Homo sapiens: one gene and its partners. The protein of the gene in region 2 purifies or fractionates together with the protein of the main gene of each other region. This does not show direct contact. Each region holds a gene or a part of one and is shown on either strand. Other genes may lie near its edges. The genes, in order: GFPT2, SALL2, ZMYM1 and PTCD2.

What was found.
Region 1: the proteins of SALL2 (region 2) and GFPT2 purify together in Homo sapiens (affinity purification with mass spectrometry; 2 studies listed by BioGRID and IntAct, with this or other methods). This does not show direct contact.
Region 3: the proteins of SALL2 (region 2) and ZMYM1 purify together in Homo sapiens (affinity purification with mass spectrometry; 2 studies listed by BioGRID and IntAct, with this or other methods). This does not show direct contact.
Region 4: the proteins of SALL2 (region 2) and PTCD2 purify together in Homo sapiens (affinity purification with mass spectrometry; 2 studies listed by BioGRID and IntAct, with this or other methods). This does not show direct contact.

Annotation. Positions count from the first base shown.
Region 1 is NC_000005.10:180,343,284-180,350,340, forward strand, and holds part of GFPT2 (glutamine--fructose-6-phosphate aminotransferase [isomerizing] 2), read right to left. Parts: intron 1-7,057. UniProt on the Homo sapiens protein: Controls the flux of glucose into the hexosamine pathway. Most likely involved in regulating the availability of precursors for N- and O-linked glycosylation of proteins.
Region 2 is NC_000014.9:21,520,580-21,523,346, forward strand, and holds the end of SALL2 (sal-like protein 2), read right to left. Parts: coding exon 2,125-2,767; 3' UTR 1,666-2,124; coding exon of another isoform or gene 1,429-1,665; 3' UTR 501-1,428; downstream 1-500. UniProt on the Homo sapiens protein: Probable transcription factor that plays a role in eye development before, during, and after optic fissure closure.
Region 3 is NC_000001.11:35,110,334-35,116,365, forward strand, and holds the end of ZMYM1 (zinc finger MYM-type protein 1), read left to right. Parts: coding exon 1-114; intron 115-1,438; coding exon 1,439-1,579; intron 1,580-1,753; coding exon 1,754-1,797; intron 1,798-2,643; coding exon 2,644-4,926; 3' UTR 4,927-5,526; downstream 5,527-6,032.
Region 4 is NC_000005.10:72,330,323-72,337,379, reverse strand, and holds part of PTCD2 (pentatricopeptide repeat-containing protein 2, mitochondrial), read right to left. Parts: intron 6,123-7,057; coding exon 6,005-6,122; intron 2,363-6,004; coding exon 2,284-2,362; intron 1,587-2,283; coding exon 1,495-1,586; intron 1-1,494. UniProt on the Homo sapiens protein: Involved in mitochondrial RNA maturation and mitochondrial respiratory chain function.

The DNA of each region.
Region 1 (7,057 bases), on a different chromosome or scaffold from region 2:
CGAGAACGTTCGGCACGCTCCGCAAGGCACCGCTGACTTTCAGACCCACGACAGCCTCCTGGACAGCAGCGGGGGCATAAGGGGTCCTTGTCCTCAGGACCACCAGCTGTGTCCGTACCCAGCCAGGAGGCCCGGTGCCCACTCAGGCACAGCAGGGGAGCTGACTGCAGTGAGAAAAGCTGCCAAGGAGTGTGGTTTTCACCATCTTGGCGCAAGAAAGCATAAATCTCATTTTCACCACGAGCCCTCTTGCGTAGTGACATCCCTTCGGTCACTTCTTTCATGAAGGAAGCTCTGTTTCTTTGCTTTTGCAGCTCATCCTCTTGGCTGGATCCTCCCTGCACTCTACTGCACTCAAGTGAATAAAATAGCGTTCACGCTGTGCTCTTATCATTTAAAAATAAAACACAGAATAAAATGAAGCTCCTTTCCCAGGAATTTCTCCTGCTATTTACATCAGAATTCCCTTTTGGAATTCCTTCCATCCATAAATAAAAGCTACAGTGAGAATCCACTTTTTTAAACCCATGAGGTCGGTAAAGATCAAACAGTTGGACAGTGAGAGTTTAAACTCACATACCCTCTTTGGAAAGCAATCTGGCAATCTCTCAAAATTAAAAATGTACACATCTGTGGACCAGAGCTGTTGGGCTTCTAAGAAGGTATCCAGCGGACTTTTTGCAGAGATGCATGTGCACACGTGCGAGGACAGCTGCTCAGGGCTCTTGTGGTTGCCAAAGACTAGTGACAGTCTGATGTCTGGCAAGCGACAGGCAAGGGACAGGCAAGGGACAGTGCAGCCACACAGCAGGGCCTTTTACAGGCAGCCCTCAACAGAGAGCAAGGGAAAGCTGTGCATTCTCTTGGAAGGCAATTTAAATCTCCAAGATGTGTCAAGGGAAAAAGAAGCTTGCAGAATATGAGTAAATTACGCAAGGGCTGGGGGAGGAGCATGGAGCATTTCTAGAAGGGCACCACGCCCAGAGGGCAGTCAAAGGTAGCCTCTGAGGTCACTGGATGTTGAGCAGAAACTTCCTTTCCACTGCACGTGTCCTCTTTAGATGGTTAAGACATTTCACCGTGTGCCATGGCACATGTGCCCCTATGTGAATTAGGTGGTGATGAGTACATCACCATTATCTAGATGCCAGATAATGTCTAAATAAGCAAAGACTTCATTCTATCCACAGGGGGATGTCCTAGCCAAGGCCTGAGGGTTAACATGGACCGACTGTTTGGACAGTGGTGTACATGACGCAGACCTGCCTGGTTCACCTGGATTTCCTGTGGCACAGGCATTCTGCTGAGTGGGACCTGAGAGCTTCTGGGTACAGGAGGAGTGACCGTGCGGCACCTGGGACCCCCAGCCAGGCCGGACCTCTGGCTGGTTCTGCTTTCCACCGGTGCTTGAACCCTCCTGGCATGTCCGAAGCACCAGGGCCACAATGGCCCTTCCCTCTGCAGGGGACGCCAGGCCTGCCCTGGCCAGGCCTTCTTGCCCCTCGACAAGAGGGGCCGGGCCCACCTGACTTGGCTGGTCCCCTGTTCCACTCCCCTGGAAGAGCAACGGCCATAAGAGGGCTGTAATAAGGGGCAACCTAAGCACATGCCCCAGCCTTAAAAACACCAGCCCAGGGCCACCCGCCTGGGTTGGCTTCCTCCCTGCTGCTGCCATTCACCAGCCAAGGCATACCCAGAAGCACAGAGGCCGTGGCCAGTGCCGGAACCCACCTCGAACCCCAGCTCCACCCCTTGATTTCAGTGCACTCTCCAGCAAGCCACTGAATGTTCGGACCTCAGTTTCCCTGTCAGTGAAACAGGGTGATGGCTACAATAGTGCCTGCCACAGGGCAAGGAGCTTGAGAAATTATCCCTTGAGAGATTTATCATTCAATAAAACCAAGGGGGAAATAGTACCATTTACTGTCATTTCATCTTGGCCTTCTGCCTGGGGAAATAATGGTTAAACCAAATGCGTTACTTGGTTGTGGCTTGGTCAAGATTTAATTCATCTGTAAGCAGTTCTCAGGCCCACAAGGCCGCGTTGCTGTACTAGGTGCTGCAAGCTACTGGGATGGACCCATCGGGGGGCCTCACTGAGCGCTCCAGGGAAGGACAGGGATGCACAGGGACCTCCCAAGCCCACAGGGGAGGTGGGAAAGGGCTTCCCGCTGGGGTGGGAGTAGGCAGCTCTTTGCAAGGCTGGCTCTTGCTAGCTCTTCGCAAAGGCGCCTCTGACCCATTCTGCAGGTTTTAGCAGATCTTTCCCACCACCTTCTCCAGCCACATAGCCCTGGTTATTCCACGCTGCACTTGCTTCCTTGTCTTTTTCTTCGGCTCCCCGCTGGATTGTAACCTTCTGGAGGATGGGACCACATCTGTCTCATCCATTGCTGAGTCCCCAGCACCTGGCCCAGGGCCTGGCACATCTTAGGTGCTCAATAAATCCATGTTGAGTGAATGAATGAACAGATGGAGGAATGCCAGAGAAGGTAGCCTTTGAGCTGGGTCTGAGACAGCCACGTTCAGCCAAGCATAAGCAGCTCCGCTCACTGGGACCCACAGCAAGGACAAGAGGGACACAGAGGCAGGAGGTCCCTGAGTGCCAGACCCTTACAATGGGAGCACGGTGCCACCAGAACTCTCGGTTAACCCCAAGATAATCAAACACAGAGGCTTACATCCCCCCGCACAACACCCCCGGCCCCATGCACCATGAGGATCCCAGGACTGGCATGAGGACAGCCTTCTAATCAAATGAGCCAGGGCCTAGGGAAGGCTCCCAGAACCCTGCTGGGTAAACCACCATCTACAGTGGCTCCCCGCATGCCAACCCTTCCCGAGCTTCACCTCCTCTAATCCTCATGACATCCTGTGTGAAGAGACTGTGGTTCCCAGGGATAGAGATGGCATCGGAGGCTCCACTGCCAAAGACTTGAGGAATTCACAGCCAGGTCTGCCTTTTTGCAAGCCTGGGCTCACCACTTCTACCCCCACCTCCCCACAATCAGCATAGAAACCTATCCCAAGAAGAAAGGTATAGCTCACACAGAGGGTCCCTGGCTTCTGAGGAGATGCCCGCCTAGCACCAGATGGGTCCAGGACAGGTGCTGCCCCCTGAGAGCCAAGCCCCACCACGGGACAGTCCAGCTTCCAACTCCACCTTTCTCCTCCTGTTCAGCCCCCACCCCACCAGGGCCTCGGTGACCACGGCAAGGCAGGTTCCAGCTACATCCCTCTCTCGTCTTCTCTGCCCCGCGGGCCCACCGCGTGACGTCAACCCCTCCTGCTGTCTGGCCTGAGCCCGCCTTGCTCCCCATGCCACCCTGCAGCTTCCGCCCTCTGGGTCCCACTCCTGCAGGGTGCCCTCAGCCCAGTGCGTGCGCCCCTGGGGCCCCCAGGCCTATGCACATGTGATGCCTTCTCCAACCCCCTACCCCAGATGAAGATCTTTTCCCTCCTCTGAACCCCTTTTTCCAACTTTCCGTCCCCTTTTCAAGGCATCTGTCACTTTCTACCTTGATCTACTGCTCTTTCCTAGCCTCCACTCCCAGGGCTGCCCACGGCGTAAGAAAGGCATCACTGGCAGGCGACAGGATTTTAAATGAGCTGAGAACGGGGCAGTAAATAACACCAAACTTCTTTGGGGGAAAGTTTTCCCCTTTCTGTTACTCTTCTTAGCTTGGAAATCTCCTTGCAGAACTGAGAGGGAACAGACATCAGGCCTAGCAAACCTGGGAGCAGTCTTATTTCTCACATTGAAGAGACAGGGGATGGACCCAGCCAGGTGGGGGATGCTGAGCGCCCAGAGGGGCTGGACAGGGAGGTGCCTTCAGGTTCCCAAGAGCCTGCAGAGGGTTGGGATTGAGAGGCCAGGAGAGCCGAAGGCAGGAGAGCCTGAAAATGCAGGCTTTATGGAAAGTCTGAGATACAGGAGCCTGGAGATCTTTCTAAAGAAAAGGAGCACTTTGCAACCTCTGCAAAGATGGCCCTGGGCCAAGCATCCTTCCTACCAGCAGGAGAGCCCAGGTGGCTTGGAGAAAGGCCCGGCCTGGGGGCAGAGGCTGCCCTGGCCCCACCACCCAGTTTGGTCATGTGCCCTGTGGTCACCCACCCAGAGCTTCCAGACAGCCTTTCAGGGCCCTATCCTCAAAATTGATAGATAAAATGAACCGGGAAAGGTCCCAGAAGGAGAGGGACCGAGAAAAACTCAAGGGGATTCCAGAAGGGATTCGACATGAGCCCTCCGAGAGGAGACTGTAGCCTCTTGGCCCCGGCTCACTGCTATATTCTGGGGCTTCCAGCACTTTCTCTGCACAAGGCCCGAGAGATCACACAGGAAGTCAGGAGCAAAGACATCATGAAGGGGCACGCAGGCAGGGCCTCTGAAGCTCAGGGTTCAACCCCCAAGTGACAGATAACGACAATGGCCAGCGCAGGGAGATGATATTCCCTGGACACCCAGCCAGAAGGTCAGCCACACTAGGGCACTGAATTCCTGGGATTTCCTCTACAGCCCCTGGAGTGCTGAGCGTGGGGGTGGAGGGGAGGGATGATTTGCGGCCTGGGGGATGGGGAAGACACCACTTCGCAGCAGCCAGGTTGGGCCCACGTTCTGATTCTGGTGACGCTTGTTTTGAAAAATCTCTCCAACTTTCCAAGCATCGGCTTCCCAACGAAAGCCCAGCCCTCACTCTGAGTGAGGGGACCGTTCCAGGGAGAGGCCCAGCCAGTGCTCCACACAGGACAGGTTGGCTCTGGAAGCTATGTCACCACCCACCCAGGCCAGGACTCACCCCTCAGAGATCTGTCTTTCTCCCACCATCTGTTGCTTCTCCGAACTGAAGGGGCTGACCTTTATAGTCCATGAGCCTCCTAGAGATTAGGTATCATCCCAGGTCCCAAACTGGATTACTTCCTGCCTCAACAGAAGAGTACGGCCAGTTGAATGTCTGCCTCAATGAGGGCTCGTGAAATTCCCGAGCGTGTGCACGTGTGTGCCTGGGCCTGCCTGTGTGTGTTGGGGGAAGAGGGACAGGTCCACTCTCCTGGGTGAGGCCCACAGGTGTGGAGAGTCCCCTGGGCCTTGGGCAAGGGCTGCTGAGGAGCTGTGGCCTCTCATACACTGGGAAAGGTCACTTGGTGAAGCAGGGATGACAATTCCTGCCACCTCCTTGCAGAAACAAGATCAAAGCTGGAGGTGCCGCGGATGCATGTGATCCCACGCCAGGCTCTTACAGAAAGACAGAGGAGCCTGCGGGCCTGGCGGGGGCCCTGAGCAGACGCGGCACCTGGCTCAGGGTAAGAAGGGGACTTGGCTCCCCTGGAGACAGCCCCAGACTGCCCCAGGCCTCTTTGGGACCCCAGGAGTTAAAGTGACCTCACCATTGGAATCCATGAGATAATAGACTCTGCTTCCTGTGGTAACCTGGACAGGACATTTCTTTTCTTTTTTTTTTTTTTTGTTTTCTTTTTTTGAGACAGGGTCTTGCTCTGTCGCCAGGCTGGAGTGTAGTGGCACGATCTCGGCTCACTGCAACCTCTGCCTCCTGGGTTCAAGCAATTCTCCTGCCTCTCCTTCCCGAGTAGCTGGGACTACAGGTGCGTGCCACCACACCTGGCTAATTTTTTGTATTTTAGTAGAGACAGGGTTTTACCATGTTGGCCAGGATGGTCTCGATCTCCTGACCTCGTGATCCACCCACCTCGGCCTCCCAAAGTGCTGGGATTACAGGTGTGAGTCCCCGTGCCCGGCCATTTCTATTTTTTAATAGAAAAGTTGCCAGTGTCCCTTTCATTCTTACAGTTTCACCAAAAACAAAGAGGGAAGTGATATATATTTAATTAAAAGAAAAAAAAATCTTAAGAAAAGAAGGGGACAGGTACAGTGGCTCATGCCTGTAATCCCAGCACTTTGGGAGGCCGAGGTGGGAGGATGGCTTGAGCCCAGGAGTTCAAGGATGCAGTGAGCCATGATTGCCCCACTGCATCCCAGCCTGGGTAACAGAGTGAGACTCTGCCTCTAAAAATAAAAATAAAATACCTAAATAGTTTAATTGTTTTATTGTGAAATTCATTTTCAGAATTTTCTCTCAAACTTATAACCTCAAATTAATCACTCTTTATAAGCTAATTTTGCTAGATACAAAAATAATCTCTCAATTGAAAAGCACTGTTTACTGATGCTATACCATAAAGTTATAAAAAGAAGGTTTTTCTGAACTTGGGAATCCCCTGAGGAGACAGTGGAGGGCTGCAGCCAGCACAGAGACTGGAGCGACACAGCCACAAGCCAAGGAACGCGGCAGCCCCAGGAGCTGGGAGAGGCCGGCGACAGATTCTCCTCAGAGCCTCTGGAGGAGGCTCAGCCCTGAAGGTACCTTGATCTGGGCCAAGTAAAACCGATTCTGGACTTGTGGTCTCCAGAACTGTGAGCGAATACATTTCTGTTGTTTTAAATCAGTAAGTTTGCAGTCATTTGTTACAGCAGCCAGTGGAGACGAACACACCAACCAGGACAAAAGACGGTGATGTCAAGGCAAGGGCTTCACCTTCTGGCAAGAACTAAGAATTCTCCAGCTCTTCACAGTGATTGTTTTTTTTTTTTTCTCCCTCACAGATTACTAAGTGCAGTATGGGACGCACAGGGACAGTTTACAAATTCGTGGATGGGAAGCGCAAATCCTTCCTGCCAAATCCCCATGCATGCCTGGTCCATGCTGCCACACTCCAGCTCATGCTGTGCCCCAGCCCAGCGTGCCTGCCACCCCCTCCTCTCTGCAGGGCCCGTGCTCGTGTCTGGGTCCTTGTGGCACTGCCCCAGGTCCCTCCCCTTCTTCCTAGGAAGGTCAGCTCCTGCCTCTGTTGTGCAGAGTCCCATGAGTGAGGGAGGCAGCTGGGAAGGACTGGGAGAACAGGCGAGTTTGTGTCCATCACCCAAGGGGTCACCCAGGCCCTATTTGGAAATAAGGACTCCAGGTTGCTCATCTTCAGATTTTGTCAAGAGAAGCCAAAACTCCCACCTACTTATGTGAAATCTCCCAATTTTGTACTTTGG
Region 2 (2,767 bases):
TCCTAATGATAAGAATCCTCCTTTGTCTTGTTGGTAGAAATTATTAGGGTTGAATTACATTTTTTTCTTTCTGATTATGACATCAGATCTCAAGGATCATAAAGTTTAATTCACCTTGGTTCTACAGATTCGCTGATGTCAGAAGGCTGATCTGTGGTTTGAGAAAGACGGAAAAGAAACAGTTTCCAACCTCCAAACAAAACCCACAGAAAAGCCTGGTGGTGGAAGGTTCTAGGTAGAGAAAATCTAGACAATGACTGGACACAGTGGGCAAATGCCTACCTTTTGGAAATACAAACTCCACAGGGAACAATTTCCACAGAGAAGTTACATTAACTGAAGGTTGTCTTAGGACAAGGCTGAATAAAGTAAATATTTCAACACCATATGTTCAGCTTTGGCAGGAGATGTAGGTGGGAAGGGAATCTCAATTTTGGGGAATGCCCATATCACACCCCAGCTGGCTATGTAATCATGAAATAAGGAGAAACACATAAATATTTGGTTAAAACACCTTTAATGATAGAGGGAAAGACACTAATATCTCCCGTCTGTTCTTGACATTTTACTAGGTTAGGAAGCTCTGGAGCCTACAGCTTGAGGAGAAGCCATCGTTCAAGTCAGTCAATAGCAAAACCCTCACTCTCTCCTCCTCAGAACTCCTGTTCCAAATGATCCTATGTTAAGAGTAAATACTACAACTCATTACAAGACGGAGAGGCAGGGAGGACGCCACCTGGAGCTGGTCTCCCAAAGTCTGGGACTCTTAAGAACCAGACAATGACAAAGACACAAGCCCCAGCCTACGGATAGGCAAAATGGGTAGGGGTCTTGAAAGAGGAAGATAAGGAAAATACAAGGGGCCAGGGAATAAAGGAGGGAGTTATCTAAAACTAGAAGCATACTAGTGCTAGGAAATCCCCCATGATCCCTGGTACACCTCTGCACACTATGTCACTATTAGCCCAAAAGAATATTAACGAGAATGTCCAGACATTCACAAGAATTTGAGGCCTTTTCCCTTACATCATGTCCCTTTCTTAGTCACATAGGTACCAGCAAGCCCTATGTTCTAGCAACATTCCTTAACTCTCTCATCATTAGTTCATCAACCATGCTGACCAAAAATGCTCCTTAAAGATACGAACTTCACATTTCCCAAATATCTCCTGGGAGACCTCTTGGCAAGAAATCAGCTTGTTTCCCAACTTTGAGAGGTCATCATGAATGAGAAGCTGGAGAGGTCTTGGCACACTGACCAGCCAAAACCTTTACCTTAATGTGACCATCAGGGGATTTACTGGGAAAATTTTCCTATGCCCTTCCTTCATTTCTCCCTACTTCCTAGGGTTGGGTCACCAATTACTGGAGCATCTTCAGTACCGGCACCTTCTGGAGCAGGGGGAGGAAGAAGGAATGTACAGTTTGCTACTTCTTGTCTATGATGGGCTTCTCAGGCACTGCCTTGGGTGCAGGAGGCTGAAATAGGAGGGGGGCTGTCTTCTCCTTGGCTTCCCTGGATCCCATTGTTGGAGGCACCTTCCCAGCCACAGTTCCTAGGCCAAACAGCACTGGTGGGGCCAGGCTTGGAGTGGTAGTGGAGGTGGAGCTGGAATTCCAGGGCTTCATGGGCAGGCCATTTGACAGGAATGCCACATACTGGTTCTAGAAAGATAGGGGACCCATACCCACCAGCTGAGCAGAAAGGTCACCCCAGAGGAGTGGCACTGGGCCCTCCAGAGACAGCTGCCAGCCCTTTTTGGCTAGGCTGCAATGCCAAATGTAGGTGCTCAGGTGCACCTACCAAAGGGAAAGGGAGAGGAGAGAGGAGGGGGAAGAAGGGTCACACCAGGGAAGCTGGAGAGGGTTCCCCTTGAGAAAGCTGCAGAGAATCTATGTTCCTCAGGTACAAAGAATGAGGAGGGAAGAAAAATTCCTTAGGGGGCCATCCCCTTGTAAGCACAGTAATTTCCAAGCTCAGGGACTACAGAAAAGCCACTAGGGACATAACATGTTAAGAACTTAGAGAAAAAGACAAAATCAGGGCTCATAACTCTGGGAGGTCCTTTTGTGAAGCTGTTTCTGCTCTGTGGGACAAAGAGCAGCAGGTACAGAAAAACAGGCTCATGGGATCGTGGGGTCATCTTTTCGGGGAAAGGGGGAGAGCCCTGTGGAGGTGATGGAAGGCGAACAGCCAGGGACTAGAGAAAGAGCAGCAATATTCTGAGGGCCATGGGGGGCAAAGGGCTGTACCTGGTGGTGTGCCAGGAGCATATGCTTCTTGAGGGTAGCCCGCTCAAGAAAGCCCTGCCTGCAGAAAACACAAGTGAAGAGCGGCCCCTCCTTGGGGTGGGTCTTCTGATGCTCCTCCAGAGCTGCCTGGGAGGGAAAGGCCTGGCCACACACTTCGCAGGCCTTTCTGCTGCTGCTCTCTCCTGGCTCCTTTCTCATTGCCTCCTGCAGGCTCAGCTCCTCTACCAAGGTCACGCTGGTGGCTTCCCCTTCTGGGGTGAGTGCTGATGCCGGACTTGAGCTTCTCTCCGGTTTGCCCCCCTCTTCCTTGCCTCCTAAAACACCACTGCTTCCCTGCTCCATTGGCTGAGGCTGATCCAGGCTGTCAGGTGGTGGTGGTGGTGGCAAAGAAGACTGTTGAGTAGTTTTCTCATTACTGTCCATCTCCTTCCCAGCTGTGGCTGCTGCCGCCACTGTCCCCACCTCCTCCTCTGCCCCAGATGCCTCTTCTGAATCACCTCTCACTGATATTGCC
Region 3 (6,032 bases), on a different chromosome or scaffold from region 2:
TGAAGCCCTCAGATGAAATGATTGAGACTACGAGTGATTTGGGGAAGACAGAGCTTTTCTGCTCTATTAATTGTTTCTCTGCATACAGTAAAGCTAAGATGGAATCTTCTTCAGGTAATGTTTGTTTAGCAATTGTAGGGGTTTAGTAATTATTAATAAATAATATTATTTGACTTTAATTTATAACCTTGATTCATTTTCAAATTAAACCGACTTTTAAAAGTCAAAACAATCTAAACTTGTTGCAAAGAACTGTTTTTCAGTATTTTTGTATAAAAGGAAGGCTACTTTACCACCAGAGATTTAATATTTGTAGGCCAAGCACGGTGGCTCATGCCTGTATTCCCAGCACTTTGGGAGGCCAAAGTGGGCAGATCGCCTGAGGTCAGGAGTTTGAGACCAGCCTGGGCAACATGTTGAAACCCCGTCTCTACTAAAAATACAAAAAAAATTAGCTGGGCGTGTTGGTGGGTCCCTGTAGTCCCAGCTACTTAGGAGGCTGAGACAGGAGAATCATTTGAACCTGGGTGGTGGAGGTTGCAGTGAGCCGAGATCGCACCATTGCACTCCAGTCTGGGTGACAGAGTGAGACTCCATCTCAAAAATAATAATAATAAAAATTAAAAGATACATGTCTTTTTTTAGATTATTTAGTAAATGAATATATGTATGTTTACATCAATATATATTGAGCACCTACTGCAAAACATGGTACATAGGAGGCACTTGGTCAATATAGAGTTTAATACATTTACAAGACTGCTTTTATTAGAATATAGAATGTTTTACTTAGCCCTGTTTTGTAAAAACAAGTTTTCATTACATTTTTCACATGAAATAGAAGTGATTGTAAATGCTTTAAGACTCAATAATAAAAAAGCACAAATAATCTGAGCCAACTAAGTATTCCATCAAAAAGCCTCATGTAGGACCAGTGGTGCTATTTACATAGACCATAGAGTGACTAATGCCTCTGGGATTTGTAAGTCATACAAACTGGCTTGTTACAGAAATTTCTGCAATAGTGGCTTGGGCACCAACCTAGCGCTCCATTGATGTTAAGGTTTATGAATCCTGGAAGAGTTTGAAATAGATGCCCATTAGGAGATTCAATCAGAATCTCTTTTCTTCATGAGTAATTTCACAGAAAAATTTGCTCATAATTTTAAACAAATTCTTTAAAAGGACTGGGAAATTGTGTACAAAGGTAAAAGACATAAAATGTTGGAGAAGTGTAAATTTTCAGTGTAATGTTGTAATTATAAATACGATACTAAAGAACCTGGCTATTCCTAAGCCCTAATAAAAATTACTTCAGTACCTACCAATTCCTTAAGCTATTAGATGCTTGCATTATTTCTTTAAACAGTATTACTAAACAGTACTTTCTGATGATTGATTTTGCCTTGTTTATAAGAAATCTTTTTATTGTTGTCAGTAAGTGTTGTTTCTGTGGTGCATGATACTTCAACAGAGCTTCTTTCTCCAAAGAAAGATACGACTCCAGTTATAAGCAATATAGTGTCATTGGCAGACACCGATGTTGCCTTGCCCATCATGAACACTGATGTCTTACAAGGTAAAAGTTGATGTTAAGATATTTGACATAAATATTGTTTTGTCATACTTGATAAATCTGTCTATATGCTAAATTTTCTTTTTGTTTCTTATATGAAATAAGCAAATATAGTTTATGATGCTATTTTATAGGTTATAGTATATAAGATCTTGAATTTATGCTCTATTTTAACAGATACAGTTTCTTCAGTAACAGCAACAGCAGATGTCATTGTGGATGTAAGTTTTAACTTTTTTTACCACTGTCTTTTTTTAATAAGCAGATTTTTGTTGTTGTTGTTGTTGAGACAGAGTCTCGCTCTGCCACCCAAGCTGGAGTGCAGTGGCGTGATCTCAGCTCACTGCAACCTTTGCCTCCTGGGTTCAAGCGATTCTCCTGCCTCAGCCTCCTGAGTAGCTGGGATTACCAGCGCCTGCTACCATGCCCAGTTAATTTTTGTATTTTTAGTAGAGAAGGGGTTTCACCATGTTGGCCAACCTGGTCTCGAACTGCTGGCCTCAGGTGATCCGCCCACCTTGGCCTCCCAAAGTGCTGGGATTACAGGCATGAGCCACCACACCTGGCCCAGATTTTTTATATATATATATAATATATACTATAATATATAAAAATATAAATATATAATATAAATATATTATAATATATTGTATATAATATAAATATATTATAATGTATATTTATTATATATTATATTTATATATTTAATATATATTTTATGTATTATGTATTCATATATGGGGTGTGTGTGTATGTTTGTAGATTGTTTAAACAGAAGTATTTTTTTCCTCTGGGTTCTTCTTTTAAAAAAATACTACACAATTTGAGTCATCTGAGCAATAAAAATTATTTTTATGACAATTACATACCAAAAGGTCCTTCAAACATTTAATGCTGAATCTAGATTGCAAATAAATAAGTTATACGTAATTGTTAACGTTTCCCCCTAGTGGAGCTCATACTGTAACTCAGCCATTTATTTTACTATGTTATTAGAGTAGATATATTTGATATTTTAATTAATTTTTGAAAACTGTTAAATGTTCTTTTCTCATTTTCTCCCAAAGCTTTCTAAGAGTTCACCTAGTGAACCCAGTAATGCTGTTGCTAGTAGTAGTACGGAACAGCCAAGCGTTTCACCATCTTCATCAGTATTCAGTCAGCATGCAATTGGTTCCAGTACAGAAGTACAAAAAGACAATATGAAATCTATGAAAATAAGTGATGAACTATGTCACCCAAAATGTACATCCAAAGTACAAAAAGTTAAAGGTAAATCACGAAGTATTAAAAAATCTTGTTGTGCAGATTTTGAGTGTTTGGAAAACAGTAAAAAAGATGTGGCATTCTGTTATTCATGCCAGTTGTTCTGCCAAAAATATTTTAGCTGTGGAAGAGAGTCATTTGCAACCCACGGAACTTCTAATTGGAAAAAAACCCTGGAAAAATTCAGAAAGCATGAAAAAAGTGAAATGCATTTGAAGTCATTGGAATTTTGGAGAGAATACCAATTTTGTGATGGAGCTGTCAGTGACGATTTATCTATTCATTCGAAACAGATTGAGGGAAATAAAAAGTACCTAAAGCTTATAATTGAAAATATTTTATTTCTTGGAAAGCAGTGTTTACCCTTAAGAGGAAACGACCAGTCAGTTTCATCTGTGAATAAAGGCAATTTTTTAGAATTGTTAGAAATGAGAGCAAAAGATAAAGGAGAAGAAACATTTCGACTTATGAATTCACAAGTTGACTTCTATAACAGTACACAAATTCAAAGTGATATTATCGAAATAATAAAGACTGAAATGTTGCAGGATATTGTGAATGAGATCAATGACTCCTCAGCATTTTCAATCATATGTGATGAGACAATCAATAGTGCCATGAAAGAACAGCTTTCAATTTGTGTAAGATACCCACAAAAATCATCAAAGGCTATCTTAATTAAGGAAAGATTCTTGGGTTTTGTTGATACTGAGGAGATGACTGGGACCCACTTACATAGGACTATCAAAACTTATCTGCAGCAAATTGGAGTTGATATGGATAAAATACATGGCCAGGCCTATGATAGCACCACTAATTTGAAGATAAAATTTAATAAAATAGCAGCAGAATTCAAGAAAGAAGAACCAAGAGCTTTATACATACATTGTTATGCACACTTTTTGGATTTATCAATAATTAGGTTTTGTAAAGAAGTAAAAGAACTCCGAAGTGCTCTAAAAACTCTCAGTTCTTTGTTCAACACTATTTGTATGTCTGGGGAAATGTTGGCAAATTTTCGAAACATTTATAGGCTAAGTCAAAACAAAACATGCAAGAAACATATATCACAATCATGTTGGACAGTCCATGATCGTACATTACTATCTGTGATTGACAGTCTTCCAGAGATTATTGAAACATTGGAAGTTATAGCAAGCCATTCTTCAAATACAAGTTTCGCCGATGAATTGAGTCATTTGCTGACATTGGTTTCCAAATTTGAATTTGTCTTTTGTTTGAAATTCCTGTATCGAGTGCTGAGTGTTACAGGAATTCTTTCCAAAGAGCTTCAAAATAAAACCATAGACATTTTTTCTTTGTCTTCAAAAATAGAAGCAATTTTGGAATGTTTATCATCTGAAAGAAATGACGTATACTTTAAAACAATCTGGGATGGAACAGAGGAAATATGTCAAAAAATAACCTGTAAAGGTTTTAAAGTTGAAAAACCTTCTCTTCAGAAAAGAAGAAAAATTCAGAAATCAGTAGATCTTGGCAATTCAGATAATATGTTTTTTCCTACTTCAACAGAAGAACAATATAAAATTAATATCTATTACCAAGGATTAGATACTATATTACAAAATTTAAAGTTATGTTTTTCGGAGTTTGATTATTGCAAAATAAAGCAAATTTCAGAACTGTTATTTAAATGGAATGAACCATTAAATGAAACAACAGCAAAACATGTTCAGGAATTTTATAAACTTGATGAGGACATTATCCCAGAACTTAGATTTTATCGACATTATGCAAAGCTTAACTTTGTCATAGATGATAGTTGCATAAACTTCGTCAGTCTCGGCTGTTTGTTTATTCAGCATGGTCTTCACAGTAATATTCCTTGTCTCTCAAAGCTATTATATATTGCTTTGTCTTGGCCAATTACTTCAGCAAGTACTGAGAACTCATTTTCTACCCTGCCTCGTCTTAAGACATATTTATGTAATACCATGGGACAAGAGAAGCTTACTGGCCCAGCCCTAATGGCTGTTGAGCAGGAGTTGGTAAATAAACTAATGGAGCCTGAAAGACTCAATGAAATTGTGGAAAAGTTTATCAGTCAGATGAAAGAAATATAATACATGCTCATTTGAACTTACCTAAAAGACTTGTATTTCCATTGGGATGTTTTCATTTCAAAATTGTTCAAAATTCAAAAGACACAGAACGATAAACAGTGAAGTCTCCTTCCCTCCTTTAGAACTCATTTTCTCTTCCCAAAAAGTGTTATCTTTTCCTTAAATATCCCTCTAGAGGTATTTTTCCTAAGTGGTATTGTACGGTGTATACTGTTCTTCAGCTTGTCTTCTCTGTGTAACATATTTTTGAGATTGTCCCATGTCGTTACATGAAGAGTTTCTTGATTCTTGGTCTATAATTGCAGATGTTATTGTATGAATGTACCATAATATATTTGAGCAGTCCCTGCTGACATTTTTTTCCTAACCTTTTGCTATTATAAATAATGATTCATTTTATAACCTTTTATATAGGTCACATTGCACATGAGTGAGTTTACTGTAAGCTGGAAATCTAAAGTTAGAATTACTAGGTTAAGATATGTGCATTTTTACTTTTGATAGATATTGGCAAGTTGCCATCTATAAGGATTGTGCCAGTTTACAGTCCCACCCACAATGCATGAGAGTGCCTATTAAATCTTTGTAAGTGTTATCAAATGTTTTGATCTTTCCTAATCTCTTACTTTAAAAATGGCGTTTTAATCTCAGTAGAATTTTGTATATTCACTTAAGAATAAGGTTGGGGACTGGGCGTGGTGGTTCACACCTATAATCTCAGCCCTTTGAGGGCCTACACAGGAAGGAAGATCGCTTGAGGCCACGAGTTCAAGATGAGGTTGGCAACATAGTAAGACCTCATCACTACAATTTTTTTTTTTTTAAATTAGTGAAGTGTGGTACTGCACACCCGAAGTCCCAGCTACTTGGGAGGCTGAGGCAGGAGGATTGCTTAAGCCCAGAAATTTGAGGCTGCAGTGAGCCATGATTGCACCACTATGCTCCAGAGTCTAGGCAACAGAGTGAGACCTTATCTCTTTAAAACAAACAAGAATGAAGTTAGGTATCTGTTTATTTGTTTGAGCCATTTGTATTTCCTTTTTTGTAGACTGTCCTGTTTAAACGTTAAAATCACTGCTGTGGTTTTGATTTATACATCTCAGCTG
Region 4 (7,057 bases), on a different chromosome or scaffold from region 2:
TCCTAGAATCATAGAATGGTATGAATGGAAAGAATTATTGAATCCAGAGGTCAGCAAACTATGACCCTTGGGCTAAATGTAGCCTACAGCTAAGAATGACTTTAACATTTTTAAAGGCCTGTAAAAACAAAAACAAAGAATATGGGGCAGAGATCACATGAGGCAGAGACATATGTGGCCCCCAAAGCCTAAAATATTTACTATCTAGCTTTTCATAAAAAAAGTTTGCTGACTCCCAAATCTAACCATCTCATTTGTAAAATGAGATAGGTGATCAGTTCACAGCTATATAAGTCATATATATAAGCTATATAATACCAAAGTTGAGACTAGACTCCAAGTTTCTCAATTTCCACTTGGTTTTCTTTCCACTATAACCCAGCTATCCCCTTGTTTTGGAAAACTGGTATTGCTACATTCTTCAGGGGAGTTTTTCAACAGCCCATGTTCTTCTACTTCGCTTCATGTTCCTTTGTTTTCAGTATAAAGAGGTTTTGTGTGCCAGGTTTCCAAAGTTTAAGTGATACGAATGACAACAGTAATACATTAAACATTGATCATTTCACTATTTCAATGATCATTCACTAAACATTGAAGAAAGAGTTTCTATGGGCAAGAAATAATCCTGGTACAGTAATAATAAAATAACTTTTTTTTTTTTTTTTTTTTGAGACAGAGTCTCACTCTGTCACCCAGGCTGGAGTGCAGTGGCACAACCTTGGCTCACTGCAACCTCTGCCTCCTGGGTTCAAGCAATTCTCCTGCCTCAGCCTCCAGAGTAGCTGGGATTACAAGGTGCATGCCACCACGCCTGGCTAATTTTTTGTATTGATAAAAGAACGTATAAGTCATGGTCTCTGTCCTTGGACTTCATTTTCATGTCACATACGTTTATTAAAGAACTACTGGATACCAGGCACTGTGTTAGGTGGTGGGATACAAAGAAACCTCAAGGAGCTCACACTCAAGTGGAGAGAATGGAACGTGCATCTGCTAAGTACATTAAGCTGTGTCAGAAGTACCAGGGAGGTGACACAAATAGAGCAAAATTAAGGGATATCTGGAGGTGACAAACATCACTTCCAGTTTCGGTGATTGCAAAAGCCTTCACATATGAGGACAAAGTAGTCCTTGAGCTCACCAATGAAGGAAGCTAAGATTTCCATAGACAAGGACAACAGGGAAGATGGATCTAGCAGAGTCCAGCATGCGTGATGACTTTAAAGCAGAGCCTGAACCCAACACATTGCCTCTTGTTCTCACTATCTACACAATCACCAGAGAAGAGTGAAAGATGAAAAAATTACTTTTCCCATAAAACTGCCTGATATGGCTAACTTGAGTTTTCTAAAAATAAAAACATTTAAAATTAAAACATTTGCACCAGATGGAAAACAGATTTCAGAGGAACTGAATTTTATTTGTAGAGAGAAGAAAAATCCTCTCTCAAAGACTACACACAATGCTCTCAAAGTTAAGAGGAAAGAGTCTTACCAGTTTGTAGCAAATTGCAAAAGCAAGAACATAGGTATCTTTGGTGAACTTCACATCTTGGTTTTTCATCTCTATCAATACTTGCAAAGCACCTGCCAAAAGTGAAGAGTGGATCGCAGTGTTAGAGTTCCTCTACTGTTGGCCCCCAAAGCTCTCATCTGTTCAGCACCATCTACAGAAAAGTGTATTTCAACAAAATAAAAGCTATTCCTCAAAGTCATTTAGCAATTAACTAAATGTTGAAATAAACTATCAAGTCAAACAGGAAGAACTAATGTTTTAAAAGCTGCTTCACAATTTTAGCATAAGTAAAATCTGGGATATTTAGTTTAAGGGATGACATGCAATGCAATGTTTTCAAACTTCCTAAGGTCTCCAGAATTCAGCCACTTATCAGGGATATAAGAATCATTTTTTTTTTTTTTTTTTTGAGACGGAGTCTCGCTCTGTCGCCCAGGCCGGACTGCGGACTGCAGTGGCGCAATCTCGGCTCACTGCAAGCTCCGCTTCCCGGGTTCACGCCATTCTCCTGCCTCAGCCTCCCGAGTAGCTGGGACTACAGGCGCCCGCCACCGCGCCCGGCTAATTTTTTGTATTTTTAGTAGAGACGGGGTTTCACCTTGTTAGCCAGGATGGTCTCGATCTCCTGACCTCATGATCCACCCGCCTCAGCCTCCCAAAGTGCTGGGATTACAGAAGAATCATTTTTGCATGACTCATTTTTCCCCCTAGTTCCTATGCCAGCAAACATGGCAGAATTTTTCAGCAAATAGAAATTGCAGTACTTACTTTTATATTTGCCTTTGATAAATAACATATCCATCAAAATATTGAATGATGTGGAGTCTGAGAAGAAACCTCGTAAATGCTAACGAAGAAGAACAATACAGTTTGGTTAAAAGTTAAAACTATTTATTGAGGAGGTACTTTTACTGTCTCTTATCTAGCCAGGTCTTATTATTCTGCATGCTTTACTCATTTGGCCTTCTGAATTCTCTAATATATTTTATATACCCAGGTTTTATTTTTGAAAAGTTGGCCGGGCGTGGTGGCTCACGCCTATAATCTCAGCACTTTGGGAGCCCAAGGCAGGTGGATCACGAGGTCAGAAGTTCAAGACCAGCCTGGCCAACATGGTGAAACCCCGTCTCTACTAAAAATACAAAAATTAGCTGGGCATGGTGGTGGGCACCTGTAATCCCAGCTACTCAGGAGGCTGAGGCAGAGAATTGCTTGAACCCAGGAGGTGGAGGCTGCAGTAAGCCGAGATCACGCCACTGCACTCCAGCCTGGGTGACAGGGCGAGACTCCGTCTCAAAAAGAAAAAAAAAAAAAGAAAAAAGTTAAAATGCTGTCCACTCTCTTGGCTGTCATGCTGAGAGGTATAGCAAGAGATCTCTGGGTTTCATAATTACCATGAAGGACGTCTTTAAGGAACCGTCATTTGTCATGCTTAGGAGAAAAGAAACTAGCCAGTTAACCCTGGCAGAGTGGTCCTGGAAACTAGGTGCCAGCTATTAACATGAAATGGCAGCTATAAATATACTTGAGGACTAAGGCAGGAGGGTCTCACACAACTATGGTCTTTTTTTGGCAACGGATAATACAGAATTGATTATTCGCCTTTTGAAATAATTCTCCAAAACAGTGGTTCTCAACATTTTTTTCCAACTTGTCTGTATGTATTTATTTAATTGACAAATAAAAATTGTATATATTTGGCCAGGTGTGGTGGCTCACGCCTGTAATCCCAGTACTTTGGGAGGGAGAGGCGGGATCACTTGAGGCCAAGAGTTCAGGACCAGCCTGGGCAATACAGCAAGATCCCATCTCTTAAAAAAAATAATAAAAATTTAAAAAATTAGCTGGGTGTGGTGGCACAAGGCTGGAATCCTAGCTACTTGGGAGACTGAGGTAGGACGATCACTTGAACCCAAGAGTTATGAGACTGCAATGAGCTATGATAATAGTGCCACTGTATTCCCGCTTAGGTGACGGAGCAAGACCCTGTATCCAAAAAAAACCCCAAAAAACAGTATGTTGTTTTGAAATATGTATATATTACAGAATGGCTAAGCCAAGCTAATTAACATATGCATTACTTCACATACTCATTTTGTGTGGTGAAAGTACATAAAACCTATTCTTTAGGCAATTTTGAAGAATACAATACATTGTCATTAACTATAGTCACTATGTTGTACAGAGAAATCCCTTGAACTTATTCCATCTTACTGAAATTTTGTATCCTTTGACCAACATCTTGCTAACATCTCAACATTTTGTGTGCCATGATAATGGGACACATGGTATTCAAATGTGTCATTAAATGCCTTGCTCAAGTTCACTCTTTTCCGATCACCTACTATGCAGACCCTGTTCTAGGTGCTGAGAATAAAGAAATGATAAACAGGATATACACCCTGCTCAAAACCCTACTAGGGTTTATAATCTAGTAGAGCTTAAATTCTGGTGGAGAAGACAGTGAATAAGACAAGTGAAAAAAAATATTAATTTCAGCTATTAGTAAAGTCTATGAAGAGCAAGTAGAGAAGATGGATGGAAGGTAGTCAGGGAAGGCACTGTGAGAAGAGACCTCAGTGAGGTCAAGGAGGGAGCCTCAAGGATAAGAATGCAGAATGTTCCAGTTAGAGGCTGTGAGCTCGCCATGGCTGAGGAAGAACATGCAGGTCCAGAGTGAAGTCAGCAAGGGAGAAAGGGGAGATGGCACAATGGGCCCCCTAGGTCAGAGTCAAGGGTCTGGGTTTTCTTCTAAGTGTGAGGGAAAGCCACCAGAGCAGCCCCAGCCAATGGAAAAGCATTTTGAGTCACCAAGGATATTTTAGAATCACAATGTATGTGACTCTAAATTTTCAATTAGCCTCATTTAAAAAAGTAAACAGAAATAGACTAAATTATTTAACCCACTATATCCAAGATGTAATTTCAACATGTAATCAATATAAAAATTAACATACATTGCATTCTTTTTATAACAAGTAATTAAAATCCATCATATATTTTATACTTACAGCACATGTAAATTTGAGTTAGCCACAGTTCAATGACTCCATGTGGCTACCATGCTGGCAACACTACAGGGTTGTAAGTAGGGAACAAGAGAAGTTCGGCTAGAAGCAGGATTAGGTCCTATGTCACTTACTCGAATTTGTCCATTCTACTCCAGAAAATTTACCTATACATGACTTTTTCATATACAAGCAGGCTAAAAAAAACCCGTTTGCTTTCATCTTTTTTATTTTTGTTTTTATCACCATACTCATGGCTATGATTTATTACAGTGGGAAGCTTTTGTTTTCCTTTAACTGAAACATTAACATATGTTTATTAAAAATAGTCAAATAATACAAAAATGTATAAAGTAAAAAGTGAGAATTTTTAATAATTCTACCCCCTAAAGATAAAGTGATTTAGTGTCTATCTTTCCAGTATCTATGTATTTATATTTTGTTAAAATGTTAATGTTAATATGTGTCTTTTCTTATGGAACAAAAAAAAACAGGATCAAACTATCTGTACTGTTCCGAAACAACCTTTTCTCTGCTTACTAATATATTATGGGTATCTTTCTAATACACAGGTGTCATTAAATAGGAGCAAGTCTAGAGTTAACATGCCCACCATGTACAGAGAAAATTTTGTATAAAAAAAGAGTAAGAGGCAGAAGAACAACTCAACTTGTTATGTAAGTTCCTAAATATACAAAAAGGTACCTGGTGGCCAGCCGTGGCCCCAAAATTTAGCAAATGTTTCTGATTATGGGAAACACAGCCTCATGAAAAGCAGTCTAAGCTTACACTCCCCCAAAGTGATGTTTCTGTTCTCTACATGGCATCTAGTAATCAAAATGACTTCATAATGAATGAATGAATTTATAATGTCTCTAGGTCCTAGTTTCTTTATCTACAAAATGGAAATCTACCTTATCAGGGCTATTGTGAGAAACAAATAAAATGAAACATTTAAAGTACTTAAACACAATGCTGAAGACATAGTAAATATTCAATGAGTAGCTGTAAAAATAATTATTTACTTTTGTTTTTAGGAACAGAAAGTCAGAATATGTGACGGAAAGTATTTTGAAAATAGAAAAGCACTTCCCAAATGTAGTCTTCAACCAGAAAAATACAAATACAAAATCGAGAGGGAATACAGGTAAAGGATAGGAATGTCAGTCTTTAAATGGAGACTGTCTTAAGCTCTTCTCTATTGAAAGCCCCTAAAAAAGCAGGTGTACAACCCACATTGATACACATCCAAGGTAGGATCATCTGTACCTATACCTCCTCCACACTTGTTCTATATTACTCCACCCCCCTTCACACAAACTGACTGCAAGGAAACTTAAAAATGCAGAGATGTGCTCATTCAGCCCCAGCAGCCTTTCTTTGAAAATCTAACCCAGGAATAATGTACATAGAAGACATGCCTTTTCCAATATCACCAAAAACACACACATTGGCAGAGAAAACAATTAGGAAACAATAACCTGGTCTTTCATGAGCTCCACTGCAGATTCCTCGAGATCCAACTCGTAACACAACCTCACAAAAAGCGGTCCAAATTTATACTCCCCCAAAGTGAAATTTTTGTTCTCTGCATGGTACCTGGTAATGAAAATGATTCAATGAGCCAAAAGGTAGGACACAGGAAAAAGGACAGACACAGACTATGGCAGGTACTGTGCCAGGTACTGGGACACAACAGAGAACGAAGTCCTCTCACAGTCTGGAGGGGGAGAAATGGAGATTTCAGACAATCAGGAATCCTGGAGTGCAGAAGTACACCAATCATTTAAACAAGTAAACAGAATTTACAGCAGACTGACATAAAATAAAAGAAACAGAGGAAAAACGTATGTTGTAATCATTCTCTAAATTTAGAAACAACCCCTAGACTGAGTGTGAGCACACCTTAAGAAACAGCAGGAGTCTAGTAGCATCTGTAAGTGCATCAGAATGGGCCCCACCCAGAGGAGAACAAGGGAAAGAAGTGGGGGTGATGCTCTGTGCTCCTGGAGGCTGGTTTCATCCTCATATAGGATGGCAGACAACCAACAGTCACATTTACAATTTACAGCAACTCTCTGCTTTTCTAAGCTTGAGAAAGGTACACCTGGGCTATGATCACCTGGCTAAACAAATTAAATGTGGTTTTGAATGTTTAAGTTTTAGGAAAAGGCTAATCTCAAAGATAATGATGTCTTCTATGTGGCTTGAGATTTCTACAGGCAGCCAGTCTGCCAGTCAGAACTGCATATCACTACTGTAAATTTACTTTCAATAACCAATTCTTTTTGCTTTAGACACCAAGAGGACAATATATGACAAAATCAACACCTCATGATTACACATAAATCAGATTTTAGAAAGACTTATTCATTAAGAATCTTCATATTCATATTTCTTTCAGATTTAGATTCATATAATGAGTGAATCTAAAATACCTTGGGGAGAAGCGCTGATGATAAAACAGGATACTTTTTACCTTCTGCTAAAAATCATCGAGGAGTCAGAGTAGTATTACGCTAGTCTATTCTAAA